4 linked regions of the Homo sapiens genome follow. The protein of the gene in region 2 purifies or fractionates together with the protein of the main gene of each other region. This does not show direct contact. Each region holds a gene or a part of one and is shown on either strand. Other genes may lie near its edges.

Region 1 (3,500 bases), on a different chromosome or scaffold from region 2:
TTTTTTATTTTTTTTATTTTTATTTTTTTTTGGAGTTCTCTGAAGTCCCTGCATAACCAGTGCCTGGGGTTCTGTGTTTTATAGTAGCTACTCAGAGACATGCTGTGAAGGAAAGGCACAAATAGCAGCAGACCTCCATGTTCCCCTCATATTTCTACTCTTGCTTCAGTCATTCCTCTTGGAGAATACATGAGTTTTTAAATTACTTATTCTCTGAGATTTGCCTGTTGAATTATAAAATGGCTAGTTTCTTAATTATGAGTCTCATGAATATTGCAAAGTAGAATAATTAAACAATTGGGGATGAAATGAGTTTTCCTTTCTATGTAATTTCCTGGTCTATTTTTCTAATAATAGATAAATAACCACCTGACCAGGAAACTTGAGTGACATAAAGAATGTAAGAAAACTGCATTAGTGGTCATTCATTTTCATTTTAGAATTCATTTGTTAATTGGAGACTTTGGCTGGTCCGTTTAATAAGATAAGCTTTTACCTTTTATTGACTCAGATTGGAATACATCTGCTTATGCAATTCTGCTCACCTGATTTTTTAGAACCAGACATAAGTTCAGAGGAATCTGTCTCCACTGTAGAAGAACAAGAGAATGAAACTCCACCTGCTACTTCGAGTGAGGCAGAGCAGCCAAAGGGGGAACCTGAGAATGAAGAGAAGGAAGAAAATAAGTCTTCTGAGGAAACCAAAAAGGAGTAAGGAGTTATGTCTTCTTGCTATTTATATTTGAAGAATGTGTAAAAGGACTTTAGATTAGATTGTTTTAAAGTGTTATAACATTGGTTTATGCTAGGTATTTGCTATTTGGATTTAATTTTTAGAATTACCATTTGAAATAGGTTTATTATATAGTTGTTTGACCTGTTAGAATATGCTGTAGTTAGCAGAACACAATGGTTTGAATAATCCAAAAGTCTTTGTCATTGGCTTTGGAATGTGTTTTTGAGCTTGTAATTTATTGTGGGAGTATCTGATATTTTAAGCATTGGCAAGACTTCAATAAGAAATGAAACATAACTATAAAAATCTGACCTAGAAGACATTTCACTATTTTATTCCTACTTCTGTGCCAGGAGTGGGTTGTTTTTGTGTGCTTATGTTAGAAGGCATTGATTTGTATCAAGCCATTGGTAGTGTGACCTAAAAGTCTATATATGTTTGATGAAATATTCAGTTGAAGAATTGGCTTTGAGAATCTGAAAGTAAAATTTGCTATTGATGTGTATCTATATAAAGTGATGGCAGTTACTTTTTAATTTTTAATTTTTTTTTTTTTTTTTTTGCAGGAGAGCTGATAGTATTCATTCCACTCTTTTCATAATTGGTCAGAACAGTTAGAAATTGCTTTTAACTATAGTCATGCATTGCTTAACAATGGGTATACATTCTGAGAGATACATCTTTAGGCGATTTCATCATCGTGCCAACATCATAAAGTGTACTTACACAAACCTACGTGGTACAGCCTACTACATACCTAGGCTTTATGGGATAGTCTGTTGCTTCTAGGCTACAAACCTGTACAGCATGTTACTGTACTAAATACTGTAGGCAGTTATAACACAACGGTAAGTATTTGTGTATTTAAACATAGAAAAGGTACAGTAAAAATATAATATAAAAGATAAAAAATGGTATACCTGTGTAGGACACCTACCATGAATGGACCTTAAAGGATTGGAAGTTGTTTGGGTGAGTGAGTGAGTGGTAAGTGAATGCAAAGGCCTAGGACTACTGTGTGCAACTTTTAAAACTAAAAAGTTTTTATTTTTAGCAACTTTTAAAACTAAAAAGTTTTTATTTTTAAAAACTTTTAAAACTTTACCAAAAACAAAGACACAAGCCGGACGCAATGGTGCACAGCTGTAGCCCTAGCTACTTAGGAAGCTGAGGTGGGGGGATTGCTTGAGTCCTGAAATTTGAATCTAGATTGGGCAACGTTGTGAGACCTCATATTTATAAAAAAACAAAACTAAGACACATACACACACCTTAACCTAGGCCTGCACAAGGTCAGGGTCATCAATATCACTGTCTTCCACCTCCAGATCTTGTCCCACTCAAGGCCTTCAGGGGCAGCAACACACATGGACCTGTCATTTCCTATGATAACAGTGCTGTCTTTTGGAATACCTTCTGAAGGACCTGCTTGAGGCTGTTTTACAGTTAACTTTTTTTTTGTAGGTAGAAAACATATACTCTAATGATAAAAAGTATAGTATAGTAAACACATAAACTAGTAGCATAGCTGTTTATTATCAGGTATTATGTATAATTGTAATGTGCTTTTTTTTTTTTTTTGAGATGGAGTCTTACTCTGTCACCCAGGTTGGAGTGTGGAGTGCAGTGGCGCGATCTGGGCTCACTGCAACCTCCACCTCCCAGGTTCAAGCGATTCTCCTGCCTCAACCTGCCAAGTAGCTGGGACTACAGGCGTGCACCTCCACACCTAGCTAATTTTTGTATTTTCAGGAGAGACGGGGGTTTCACCATGTTGGCCAGGATGGTCTCAATCTTTTGACCTTGTGATCCGCCCACCTTGGCCTCCCAAAGTGCTGGGATTACAGGCATGAGTCACCGCGCCCAGCCAATATGCTATATTTTTGTATGACTGGCAGCACTGTAGGTTTGTTTACACCAATGTCACCACAAACAAGTGAGTAACGTGCTGCGCTGTGATATTACCACAGCTATCATGTTAACCAGGTAATAGGAGGTTTTCAGTTCCATTATAATCTTAAGGGACCACCATTGTATATGTGGTCTGTTGACCAAATATTGTTACACAGCACATGACCATAAAAGAATAACTTAGTAATAACTATACCTTCTAGCTATAATCTTCAGGGTATTCTTTATCTGAGTTTCATAAGTATAGCTAAGGTCTGTGGAATTTATAGCAACTATCGTGTGTGGGTGTGGGTGTGTTTGTGTGTGTGTGTGTGTGTTTAATGGAGATGGCGTCTCACTATGTTGGCTAGGTTGGGCTTGAACTCCTGGCCTCAAGCTGTCCTCCCTCCTCAGCCTCCTAAATTGCTGGGATTACAGGCATGAGCCACTGCACCCAGCCTATCGTCTGTTGTTAAATGTTCTAATGCACCTATTAGGTGCACAGAGTACTGTTATATACTCAGAATAAAATTTACATAATGCTTTAAATCTCACAAAATTGTTTTGATAAACATACTCTTATAATTCTTGCAACACCTTGGGAAATAGTTGGTTCTATATTACTGTTTTATAGCTGAGGAGAAAGACTCACATCATTTACTAAGATCATATAGCTAGCTAGTAAATGTTTGAGTGAAAATACAAACAAAGGTTTTCTGACTTTAAGAGCTTGAGTTTTTTCCACTATACCATATTGCATCTGTTGTAATTGTTAACTAATGTGCATTTTAAAATTCTCATTTGTCTTATGTACTGAGCCCTTATACCAGTGCTAATTTATGTGACTCCTTTCTCCTGCAGCTAAGAGAAAAAT
Region 2 (5,589 bases):
ACATTTTTTTTCTCTTCCAAACCCAGGGGGCAGTAGTTATGTAGTAAAAGCAAACACCCTCCTCCTGTCAAGAAAAGGCTTAACTCAGGAGATTAACTGGAAGTGAAAATATATACAGATCTTTCTCATTCACAATAAGTTTACATTGAGAAGCTACCACCAAAACCCATCCCTCCAGACATTCCTCTGTTCAGAGGGAACTGTAGTGAGAGAGAAAAAGCATTAGATATGGGATCAGAACATGCACTCTGCTACTTTCTAGTGATGTGAGGCCTTGAAAATGTTACCTTTTATTTCTTCATTACATTATCCTTCATTCTTCTAAAAATGAGCTGAGGCTGCTTGCAATAAACATTGCTTACTATTTCTGAGCCTCAGTTTCTTTACCCTCTTAAGTAAGGCTAAAAAATGACATATCTACCTTTCTTTGTGGTTTCACTGTGAGGAACAATGATGAAATATTTATTTGGGATGAAAGTCCCTTGTAAATGATAAACCATTTCCCAAATATAAGGAGGTTTAATTGTTCATTAATTTGCACAGAATCCTAGAATCATGTATTCTATCTGCTTCATAAAATTCATCTTTCCTACATCCACTTCATAAAGACATTAAAAATGAATGCCATTATATAATATGAAAATGCTTCAGAAATAGCAGCACTTGGCTGGGCATGGTGGCTTACGCCTGTAATCCCAGCACTTTGGGAGGCTAAGGTGGGTGGATCACTTGAGGTCAGGAGTTCAAGACCAGCCTGGCCAACATGATGAAAACCCGTCTCTACTAAAAATACAAAAATTAGCTGGGAGTGGTGGCAGGCACCTGTAATCCCAGCTACTTGGGAGACTGAAGCAGAAGAATCACTTGAACCCAGGAGGCGGCCGGCCATTGCAGTGAGCCGAGGTCGCACCACTGAACTCCAGCCTGGGTGACAGAGTGAGACTCTGTCTCAAAACAGGAAAGAAAAAAAAAAGTAATAGCACTTCATACTCCTTAGGATGGCTATTATTAAAAAAAAAAATCAGAAAACACAAAATGATAGAGGATGTGAGAAATTTGAACCCATGTGCACTGCTGGCAGAAATGAAAAATGGCACAGCTGCTACAAAAAATGGTATGATCGTTCCTCCAAAAATTAAACATAGAATTACCATATGATCCAGCAATTCTACTTCTGATTATATACCCCCGAGGAACTGAAAACAGGGTCTCAAAGTGGTATCTGTACACCATGTTTACAGCAGCATTATTCACAATAGCCAAACTGGAAATGGCCCAAATATCCATCGACAGATGAATGGATAAAAAATTTATAATTATATACATACAATGAAATATTCATTCTGACATATGCTATAACATGGATGAACCCTGAGGACATCATGCTAAGTGAAATAAGCCAGTCAGAAAAGGATAAATATTGTACGATTCCACTTATATGAAGTACCTAGGGTTGTCAAATTCATACAAACAGAAAGCAGAATGTTAGTTGCCAGGGGCTGGGGAAAGAAGGGAATGGGAGTTATTGTGGCTTTTTTTAGAAATTTTAAAATATTGGTTTTTTTTTAAAGAAATGGCACTGAGGACCATAAATTAAATTATACATAGTTTTGCATCAATAATAAATTTTCTGTATTAATTGTCTTGTGATTATGTAAGAGAATGGCCTTGTTCTGAGGAGATACATGCTGATATATTCAGGTGTGAAATGTCATGATATTTACATATATCAAATGCTTTAAACACCAAAATGTTCTACGTGTGTGTGAGTAGCTGCATGTATACATAGAGAGAAAGAAAGTGCTAAAGCAATTGGGACAAAATGTTAACAGCTGATAAATCTAAACAATTTTATGTTTGTTTCTTTTCCTTAAAAAAAAGCTTTGTTAATTAGTTTTTAGAAAAATGATATACACTTTTTTAAACCTGGGGGGGGGGGCAATAGTGCTAAGCATAAAAATTGAATTGCAAACACTGCATGTATACTACCATTATAATTATGTAAAAATGGTGTATACATATGCATGAAGTTTGGAAGGGAAAATGAAGAGTTTTACACGGCAAGGTAGAGTGATTATGGCAGTTTTTCTTTCCTTGTGATTTCTGCTGATTTGAAAGTTCACACAATTGGCCGGGTGCAGTGGCTCATGCTTGTAATCCCAGCACTTTGAAAGGCTGAGGCAGGGAGATTACCTTAGGTAAGGAGTTCAAGGCCAGCCTGGCCAACATGGCGAAACCCCGTCTCTAATTTATACAAAAATTAGCTGGGTGTGGTGGTGCACACCTGTAATCCCAGCTACTCGGGAGGCTGAGGCAGGAGAATCACTTGAACCTGGGAGGCAGAGGTTGCAGTGAGCTGAGATCACGCCACTGTACTCCAGCTTGGGTGACAGAGAGAGACTCTGTCTCAAAAAAAAAAAAAAAAAAAGAGTTCACACAATTGAAAAAGAAAAGGCCTTTACCTCTGGGCCCTGGGGGATTCTTCTGCATGTGCTTGCTGTTGCAGATGTCCTGGATGTTCTGGACCACGTCGGGGTTCAGCCCGTGCTCCCTCATGATGGCCAGCACCTTTCTGTCCATCAGGTTATGGGACCGGAGGCAGTTGGGAAAACGACAGTTCCCTCGGGTGAAGTGGTCACAGATGTGGAGTCTTGAACACGGTGGCTGCTGGTTACAAATCTGCTGCCGACCCTCTCCCTTATAACTTTTGCATATCTACAGAAGGGAGAAACAACAGCCAGAGTCAAAACACCTTCTTGTATTTGCCAAACATTCATTAAGGCAAGCTCACGTGTGCAAAAATCTCTGAAGCAAGCAGAGATATACCAAAGGGGGAAAAATACATGCATATTCTGCAGTCTTTGATGAGTCACATTCAGTTGGTGATTTACTTGGGGCAGAAGAGGTCCACAGACTAACCAAAAGATACTGATCAATTTGATAACCCTTGGAAGAATCAATGTAAGCTGGTTAGCTACAAACAGGACCCAAAGTGAGCCCTATATCATGAAGGAACCCAGCACAGGAAGGCTCATCTTTGGTTATCAACTCACTTTGCAATGAAAAGGACATGTGGGTCTTACCTGCAACTGTTTGGAAATCCAAAATTTAGACTCTGCTAGGCAGAATGACATTTCTCAAAAGATTGCCTAAAGAAGATAAGTTTTGTATTTCCATCTAAATAGATACATGTACGTGACTAGCTCTGAAGAGATGTAGTCCCTACTGGAAAGAGGGCAGAGAAAATACTGCAGCTGAGGCCACGCCATATGATACAGAACTGGAGGATGCTGGTTTTAAAATCTGAGGCCCTGGAAGCAGCTGTGTGACCTCAAGGGATCCCTTACCTACTCTTAGCCTCCGTTTCCTTTGCTGTAACAGGAGGAAAAGATTTGTTCTGTCTACAAAAACCAAGTTGTTAAGCAGACTAAATAGCAAAATTTGTAAATGCGTTATGCAAAATATAAAGTGTGATGCACGTGTTTGAACCATGAAATGAGGAAACCAATATAATTAGTAAGAAACCTGAATTTCAGACATTTTAATGAGTCACTTCGATAGACTCTGAGCAAACCAGATCAGTATGGTTCACTGTGATCTGTCTAGATGGCAAGCCATGATTCAAACCCCACTAGCAATGATTTTGCCACATGGATAATCGCTAAAACCTGATTCAAATAGATATATGTAACTGCTATCAAGTCTATGATCCAGATTCTAGACTCTAGACCAGCAATTCTCAAAGTGTGGTCCCCGGACCAGCACCATCAGCACTACCTGTAAATTTGTTAGAAATGCAAATCTTCAGGCACTTGCCCATATCTATAGAGTCTGAACCATCAGAGGTGGGGCCCAACAGTCTGTGTTTTAACAAACCTTCTGGATGATTCTGATGTCCGCTAAAGTTTGAGCTGTAGCAAAAAAGCACCATTAGCAACTTCACAAATGATGTTTTGGTAACATTCCTATTCCCACGCCGATATTAAGCAAGAATGCTCCTGCCTTCATTAGACCAGAACAAATGAAAGCATTTCTTCCTTTAAGAAGCACATTTCAATTGTACAAGTTTATATATCAGGCAGTCAGGTTTGCCTGATCTTTTTATGTTCTCACAAGTCAAAGCAAAATGAAAAAGTGTGAATACGTAGTTTTTTAGGGCTGAGTGTGTGGCTTCCCACTGGTTACCTCCAGTATTTTAACATTGTGACTAACACTTGCAGGTGCTTTTAAATGTTAGTTGAATGAATGCAAAGCAATCAATGAAGTGACTGGAAACATTTCACTGTGGTCCCCATCTCACACCCCCTAAACCACAAAGCTGTTTCTCTGCACTGCCTCTTACACTTAACTTCGCCCCTCTCTTCCTCCTCTTTCCTTCTGATAAAATCCAAATCAGCCAGGCACAGTGGTTCAGGCTGGGCATGGTGGCTCACACCTGTAATCCCAGCACTTTGGGAGGCTGAGGCGGGAGGATCACCTGAGGTCAGGAGTTTGAGACCAGCCTGGCCAACATGGTGAAACCCCATCTCTACGAAAAATACAAAAAATTATCCGGGTGTGGTGGTGTATGGCTGTAATCCCAGCTACACGGGAAACTGAGGCAGGAGAATTGCTTGAACCCGAGACGGAGGTTGCAGGACCTGAAATTGCACCACTGCACTCCAGCCTGGGAGACAGAGTGAGACTCCATCTCAAAAAAGAAAAAAAAAAAAATCCAAATTGCCCAAACAACAGCTGCAAATCTGCAGGGATAATTCCTCCATCTTTAGAGAGCCATCCTGGACCAACTCTTCTTGAAATTAGCTGAACTCTGGCTGACTCCTCCTGCCAAAGCCCTATGAAAAAATTCCATCCTACTCCCCTAAGTTAAAACACTCCTTTAGAGCCTTCTCTTGCCCAGCATTCTTGAACAAAAACTTATACCAACAGTACTAACTCATGCTAACTCCAGAAACCAGCTCCTCAGACCTCTAGTTCAGGAAATAATGCAGTCCCCCATTCTGGGATCTTAACTCTGACGAGTGGAAAACAGCAATTAAATTATTAGCTAAAAATAAGCTTCAGGCAAGAACCTCCCCACCCCACCCCACCCTCTAATTGTGGGTACTGAATTCTAACAATGGAAAGGGAGCCTTGGGTGATGCTGACCTCTTGTTTGCACTGTTTGATAAAAGTATGATGACAACATTTTCCTATAGGGACCCTCACAGCACTGTAGTCAATGGGCTCTTCTGGGATCCCTTACACAACAGTGCCTTGTCTTAGGTTCATATCTGCCGACCTCCTCCCTAGAAAAGGGAAGTGATATGGTTTGGCTGTGTCCCCACCCAAATCTCATCTTGAATTGTAGTTCCCATAATCCCCACGTGTCATGGGAGGGACCTGGTAGGAGGCAATTGAATCATGGGGGCAGTTACTCCCATTCTACTGTTCTCATGATAGTGAGTTCTCACAAGATGTGATGGTTTTATAAAGGGCTTCCCCCTTTGCTTAGCACTCACTTCTCTTGCTTGCCACCATGTAAGATGTTCCTGTTTTGCCGTCCACCACGATTGTAAGCTTCATGAGGCCTCCCAGCCATGCAGAACT
Region 3 (3,500 bases), on a different chromosome or scaffold from region 2:
TGACATTATTCAACCATAGTTTTTTGGAGATGGTTGAAAAAGATAAGCGAAAACGACCACTACTCATCACTGTTAACATTTTGGACGTAAACATTCTTATGTTGTGTTTGACTTACTAGGGCTTGCGTTTCAAGAAAGCCCATGTAACACATCCTGAACTGAAAGCCACCTTTTGCCTACCAATACTTGGTGTAAAGAAGAATCCCTCATCCCCACTGTATACAACTTTGGGTGTTATTACCAAAGGTACTGTCATTGAAGTAAATGTGAGCGAATTGGGCCTTGTGACACAAGGAGGCAAAGTTATTTGGGGTAAGTGAATTTTTGAATACAGGGCTGCTGTGTTCTGCAGTACTAATAGAAATACTATTCAAGTTGATGTATTAATAAAATATACAGCAAATTTTTTTAATGCAGTAGAGCTAAAACACTGTAAATCAGATGTAAATATTTAGTAAAAAATACTTTATAGAAAAAGTTGTTATAAATACAATTGTTTTAAAATTTAGCTTACTGGTTTTAGTTACATAAGGTGTAATACATTCTGCTAGATTTATTTTTATCCTTTTTAGCCAGGCACAGCAGCTCACGCATGTAAATCCCAGCACTTTGGGAGGCTGAGGCGGGTGGATCACCTGAAGTCAGGAGTTTGAGACCAGCCTGGCCAACATGGCAAAACCCCACCTCTACTAAAAATACAAAAAAATCAGCCGGGTGTGGTGGCGAGCACCTCTAATCCCAGCCACTTGGGAGGCTGAGGCAGGAGAATCACTTGAACTCAGGAGGCGGAGCTTGCAGTGAGCTGAGATTGTGCCACTGCACTCCAGACTGGGAGACAGAGCAAATCTCCATCTCAAAAAAAATTTTTTTAACCTTTTTAATAAAAATTATTATAAGGGAAGCAGATGCAAAGTTATAACTAAGAAATATTATAAGAAAATAGAATAAATTAACCATGAGCAGAGGAAGGGAGGCATATATCAAACATATTTTAAAAGTGAGGTCAGCTTACATGAAGTATTAGCCAATGACTAAAGATGTCTTCCGTAAGAAAAAATTTCTTTTGCCACAACTTTATATTATGTAAATACTTCTTATATTTACATGCTAACATTAAGAGAAAATACCTATTACATTTAAAGAAATAGAACTATCTGTCCCACGTAGGTAAACTGATCATTGAAACTGCCAGGAGCGGTGGCTCAGCCTGTAATCCCAGCACTTTGGGAGGCTGAGGCGGACAGATCATCTGCAGTCAGGAGTTCAAGACCAGCCTGGCCAACATGGTGAAACCCCATCTCTACTAAAAATACACAAATTAGCCAGGTGTTGTGGCCCACACCTGTAATCCCAGCTGCTCCGGTGGCTGAGGCAGGAGAATCGCTTGAACCTGGGAGGTGGAGCTTGCAGTGAGCTGAGATCGTGCCATTGCACTCCAGCCTGGATGACAGAGCGAGACTCTGTCTCAAAAAGTAATAATAATAATTGAAAGTGATTTAACACAGTTTAGTTCGTTCTGTTAATTCCCATTAACAGGTCTCAGAAATCATGTAGAAGCTTCCAGGCTTTAAAAAGCCCCCTCGCTATCTGGGCGCAGTGGCTGACACCTATAATCCCAGCACTTGGGGAGGCCGAGGCAGGCGGTTCACTTGAGACTGGAGTTGGAGACCAGCCTGGCCAACATGACAAAACGCCGTCTCTACTAAAAATACAAAACAATTAGCCAGGTGTGGTTGTGGGTGCCTGTAATTCCAGCTACTCGGGAGGCTGAGGCAGGAGAATCACATGAACCTGGAGCTTGCAGTGAGCTGAGATCATGCCACTGCACTCCGGCCTGGGAGACAGAGCAAGCCTCCATCTCAAAAATAAGTAAAATAAAAATATTTTGATCTTTTTTAATAAAAATTCTTTATTACAAGGGAAGCAGATGCAAAGTTATAACTAAAAAAAATTGTAAAAAAAAAATAGAATAAATTAACCATGAGCCGAGGGAGGCATACAACATATAATCACACTAGATCAGTAATAATTAAAACAGAAATGTGTCATGCAGTAATTTTAAACGCCCTCATTTGCTTAGTTTTCTACCTTTAGTACCCAGATCCAATTTCTTTGAAAGGGAAGAATACACGCTACAACTTCTTCAGTCATTGGTTTATACTTCATGTCAGCTGACCTCAGTTTTAAAATATGTTGTTACCTTGACTTGAAACTCATTTGAAACTTGATACATTTTCCAGGAAGAATTATGTGAAAAAGTGACAATGCTCAGGTCAATCCACAAAAGCCTGTTAATGCAATGTACTAATAACATGGAGCTGGCCATTATTTGCAAAAACACTATTTGTATGAAAATTGTATTCAGAACTCAAATTTGTCCTTAAATGATTGAATTTTGTAAAATCTCATTTATCCTTTATGGTTCATTTCTTATTTATTGAAAGTGGTAATTAGAAATATTTTAGGCATGGCTGGGCGCAGTGGCTCACACCTATAATCACAGCACTTTGGGAGGCCAAGGCAGGCGGATCATTTGAGCTCAGGAGTTCGAGCCCAGCCTGGGCAACATGGCAAAACCACATCTCTACAAAATACAAAAACAAAAAAATTAGCCAGGCAGTGGCGTGTGCCTGTGGTCCCAGCTACCCGGAAGACTGAGTGAGGAGAATCGCTTGAGCCCAGGAGGCAGAGGTTGCAGTGAGCCAGATCACGCCACCACACTGCAGCCTGGGGAATAAGAGTGAAACCCTGTATTAAGACAAAAAGAAAAAAAAGGCAAAAGTTATATTCTTTAAAATTAATTTTTATTAGCTAACAACCCTCCCTTTTCCCTTTTTTGGTTTTGTTTTCCTTAGGAAAATATGCCCAGGTTACCAACAATCCTGAAAATGATGGATGTATAAATGCAGTCTTACTGGTTTGACAGCAATTTCATATATAATTATTGAGGACTACACACCAATTGAAGAAACTGCCATTACTGTGATGTTTCTGAATACTACCAAACAGCCATACATGTCTGCAATGAAGAGATTTATTAAATTGTAAACATTAAAGTGGTCCAGTTTTATAAATGGTCTTTATTTTGAAATACGCTTTGACCCCATGTTCATAAAACTGAATGATTGAAAAAAAGCAAATATACAAATATCCTACTTCATCAATATCTGCATTTGTGAGTGGGTATTCAGCAATTTCCTGAAAAAACCACCAGTGTTCATTGAAAATGCCTTTCAAAAAGGTTAATACACAATTATGTGTCTGAGAATTTAACTGAAGTATCTTCAAAATCTCGTTAATCATTAATCCTAAAAAAGGTAGGTAGCATTAATACAGATGTTAAGTTTATAGTGTTTGTTTACACTAGAAGTATGTGAGAAGACACTAAAAGTTCAGAAATCTTAGAGAAATCTTTTCACCTGTGAAATCCAGTACAGCAAAGGTCTAGTGAATTCACATTCTAAACATTTTTTTCATCTCATTTACCATGTATAATAATA
Region 4 (3,500 bases), on a different chromosome or scaffold from region 2:
TCATGAGGTCAGGAGATCAAGACCATCCTGGCTAACATGGTGCAACCCCGTCTCTACTAAAAATACAAACAAATTAGACAGGCGTGGTGGCAGGCACCTGTAGTCCCAGCTGCTCAGGAGGCTGAGGCAGGAGAATGGCATGAACCCAGGAGGCAGAGCTTGCAGTGAGCTGAGATCATGCCACTGCACTCCAGCCTGGGTGATAGAGCGAGACTCCATCTAAAAAAAAAAAAATACACAGGGGTTTGCTCAGCTACAGAATCTTATCAACTCTAGTCCGTGGGTCCTGCTAAAACATACAAACCTTTTGTTTTTGGCTCTAGGGATTTCTTTTGACTAGAATCTTGTGTTTCAGTCCACTTCCTCTTCCTTCCAGGCCTTTCTAGAGTAGGTGAGTTCTGCTGGTGATCACAGTCACTAGCCTCCAATTTCTCTTGATGGTGTCTATAAAACAACAAAACAATAGAATATTTCTCTTTCTCACATGCTCCATTAGAATATATCATTAACATTATTTATAGCTGGGCACAGTGGCTCACACCTGTAATCCCAGCACTTTGGGAGGCCGAGGTGGGCGGATCACGAGGTCAGAAGATCGAGACCATCCTGGCTAACACGGTGAAACCCCGTCTCTACTAAAAATACAAAAAATTAGCCGGGTGTGGTGGCGGGCACCTGTAATCCCAGCTACTCGGGAGGCTGAGGCAGGAGAATCACTTGAACCTGGGAGGCAGAGGTTGCAGTGAGCCAAGACCGCACCACTGCACTCCAACCTGGGCGACAGAGTGAGACTCCATCTCAAAAAAAGAAAAAAAAAAGAATATCATTAACATTATTTATTTATTTATTATTTTGAGATGGTGTCTTGCTCTGACGCCCAGGCTGAGTGCAGTGTGTGATCTCAGCTCACTGTAACCTCTGGCTCCTGGGTTCAAACAATTCTCTTGCCTCAGCCTCCCGAGCAGCTGGGATTACAGGGGCGCACCACCACGCTCAGCCAATTTTTTTTTGTATTTTTAGTAGTGACGGGGTTTCATCATGTTGGCCAGGCTGGTCTTGAACTTCTGACCTCAAGCGATCTGCCCGCCTCAGCCTCCCAAAGTGCTGGGATTATAGGTGCCTGGCCAACATTATTTATCATATGCCACACATTACACTGAATCCTTTACATGGATTATCTGATTAAGTCTTCTCAACATAAGATGACTGTTGTGGAAGACTAAAAAAAATTAAAAATCTTCTCGACTGGGCGTGGTGGCTCACACCTGTAATCCCAGCACTTTGGGAGGCCAAGGCGGGTGGATCACCTGAGGTCAGGAGTTCGAGACACAGCCTGACCAACATGGAGAAACCCTGTCTCTGCTAAAAATAGAAAATTAGCCGGGTGTGGTGGCACATGCCTATAATCCCAGCTACTCGGGAGGCTGAGGCAGGAGAATCGCTTGAACCCAGGAGGTGGAGGTTGCAGTGAGCCATGATTGCGCTATTGCACTCCAGCCTGGGCAACAAGAGCAAAACTCCGCCTCAAAAGAAAAAAAAAATCTTCTCAACATCCTATATCATAAATATTATTATCTCCGTAAGGGAAGGAGAAAGGAGGCTTACAGTTGCTACTCCAGCTCCTAGCAGAGTCTATGAGGAGGCATTCAATAACAATTTTTTTTTTTTTTTTTGAGATGGAGTCTCACTCTGTCGCCCAGGCTGGAGTGCAGTGGCACGATCTCAGCTCACTGCAACCTCCGTCTCCTAGGTTCACGCCATTCTCCTGCTTCAGCCTCCCGAGTAGCTGGGACTACAGGCGCCCACCACCACGCCCGGCTAATTTTTTCTGTATTTTTAGTAGAGACAGGGTTTCACCATGTTAGCCAGGATGGTCTCGATCTCCTGACCTTGTGATCTGCCCGCCTAGGCCTCCCAAAGTGCTGGGATTACAGGCGTGAGCCACTGCGCCCAGCCTCAATAACAATTTGATTGAGTGAATGTTTTGGGGTTTTTTTGGTTTGTTTTTCAGAGACACAGGCTCACTCTATTGCCCAGGATGGAGCACAGTGGCACAATCATAGCTCGCTGCAACCAAAACTCCTGGGCTCAAGTGATCCTACCGCCTCAGCCTCCCAGATAGCTGCGACTACAGGCACGTGCCACCATGTTCAGCTAACTTTAGTTTTTTGGAGAGATGAGGTCTCACTATGTTGCCCACACTGGTCTTGAACTCCTGGCCTCAAGCAATCCTCCTGCCTCAGACTCCCAAAGTGCTGGGACTATAGATGTGAGCCACCATGATCAGCCTGAACATTTTGGTTATTACAAAGCGACTATATTACTGCCACCTTGCAGCTAGTTTCACTGAAAATACTTCTGGTTTTAATGTGCTGCTCATCTCTCATATCAGAATTGTTTATTACCCCATTGACAGAGGACACTGACTAATTTGCCTAAGGTCATTTAACTTAAAAGTATTAATAGCAGAGCCAGGACTTGAACCCCAGCAGTCTGGTCCAGAGCCCACACTCTTGACCATGGAAGAGTGTGGCTTAATCTTGTGACAAAGAACCAGAACGCCAAGGAGAAGGTCCTAGAGCGGCAAGGGCCTGAGGCCTTAAAGGAAGGGGCCCTAAGCAGGATTTGTGTATAGCTCTATTCTGGGCTGGCAGCAGGGTGCCCACTGTTTTCAAACTGTGCAATGTTACCCAAATAACATCAACTACACTTGTGGGATCCAACTGTGGGCCTTTATTCCCCTACATCCCAACCCTTCTGAGCAGCTGAGTTGACTATTTAATGGGCAATAAGGTTACTATAAAGCCAGAGGGTCGGGTAGGGCTGTGGCCCAGGAACTTGCTCCCTCATGGGAGAATTTTTTGCCATCAAGCAGTGGAGACTCTTCTCCCTGCCAAGTCTGAAAAGGAAGTCCTCTTGAGAGATCACTGTGTGAGATACTTCCTACTGACTCAGTGCCCAATCCTGCCCAACACACTTCCCAGAGGTCCTTGCAGCAGGCTGTGGACTTGACTGCGATTTCTGCTAATGAGATTCTCTCCTGAGAGATTTGGAAGGCAGAAGGAGGACAGAGGCCATCATCCTGGGACTGTGGAGCCTGACAAGTAATCTTTTTTTTTGAGACGGAGTCTCACTCTGTCACCCAGGCTGGAGTGCAGTGGCGCAATCTCGGCTCACTGCAACCTCCACCTCCCGGGTTCAAGGGATTCTCCCACCTCAGCCTCCCAAGTAGCTGGGACTATAGGCATGTGCCACCACGCCTGGCTAATTTTTGTATTTTTAGTAGAGACGGGGTTTGCCATGTTGGCCAGGGTGGTCTCGATCTCCTGACCTCAGGTGATCCACCCACCTCGGCCTCCCAAAGTGCTGGGATTACAGGTGTGAGCCACCATGCCCGGCCTGATCCTATTATTGCGCTATTTATAGCCAGTAATCCTTTCTAGTGTGGGTGTGGTGGCTAGACGCTGGAGTCCACTGTCCGTCACCAACTTCAGGAGACT

Evidence for each region.
Region 1: the proteins of ZC3HAV1 (region 2) and HP1BP3 purify together in Homo sapiens (affinity purification with mass spectrometry; 2 studies listed by BioGRID and IntAct, with this or other methods). This does not show direct contact.
Region 3: the proteins of ZC3HAV1 (region 2) and NSA2 purify together in Homo sapiens (affinity purification with mass spectrometry; 2 studies listed by BioGRID and IntAct, with this or other methods). This does not show direct contact.
Region 4: the proteins of ZC3HAV1 (region 2) and NMNAT1 purify together in Homo sapiens (affinity purification with mass spectrometry; 2 studies listed by BioGRID and IntAct, with this or other methods). This does not show direct contact.

What each region holds. Positions count from the first base shown.
Region 1 is NC_000001.11:20,773,808-20,777,307, reverse strand, and holds part of HP1BP3 (heterochromatin protein 1-binding protein 3), read left to right. Parts: intron 1-557; coding exon 558-711; intron 712-3,500. UniProt on the Homo sapiens protein: Component of heterochromatin that maintains heterochromatin integrity during G1/S progression and regulates the duration of G1 phase to critically influence cell proliferative capacity.
Region 2 is NC_000007.14:139,081,318-139,086,906, forward strand, and holds part of ZC3HAV1 (zinc finger CCCH-type antiviral protein 1), read right to left. Parts: intron 2,716-5,589; coding exon 2,463-2,715; intron 1-2,462.
Region 3 is NC_000005.10:74,773,749-74,777,248, forward strand, and holds part of NSA2 (ribosome biogenesis protein NSA2 homolog), read left to right. Parts: intron 1-119; coding exon 120-312; intron 313-2,855; coding exon 2,856-2,923; 3' UTR 2,924-3,500. UniProt on the Homo sapiens protein: Involved in the biogenesis of the 60S ribosomal subunit. May play a part in the quality control of pre-60S particles.
Region 4 is NC_000001.11:9,977,975-9,981,474, reverse strand, and holds part of NMNAT1 (nicotinamide/nicotinic acid mononucleotide adenylyltransferase 1), read right to left. Parts: intron 445-3,500; coding exon 305-444; intron 220-304; coding exon of another isoform or gene 176-219; exon of another isoform or gene 1-175.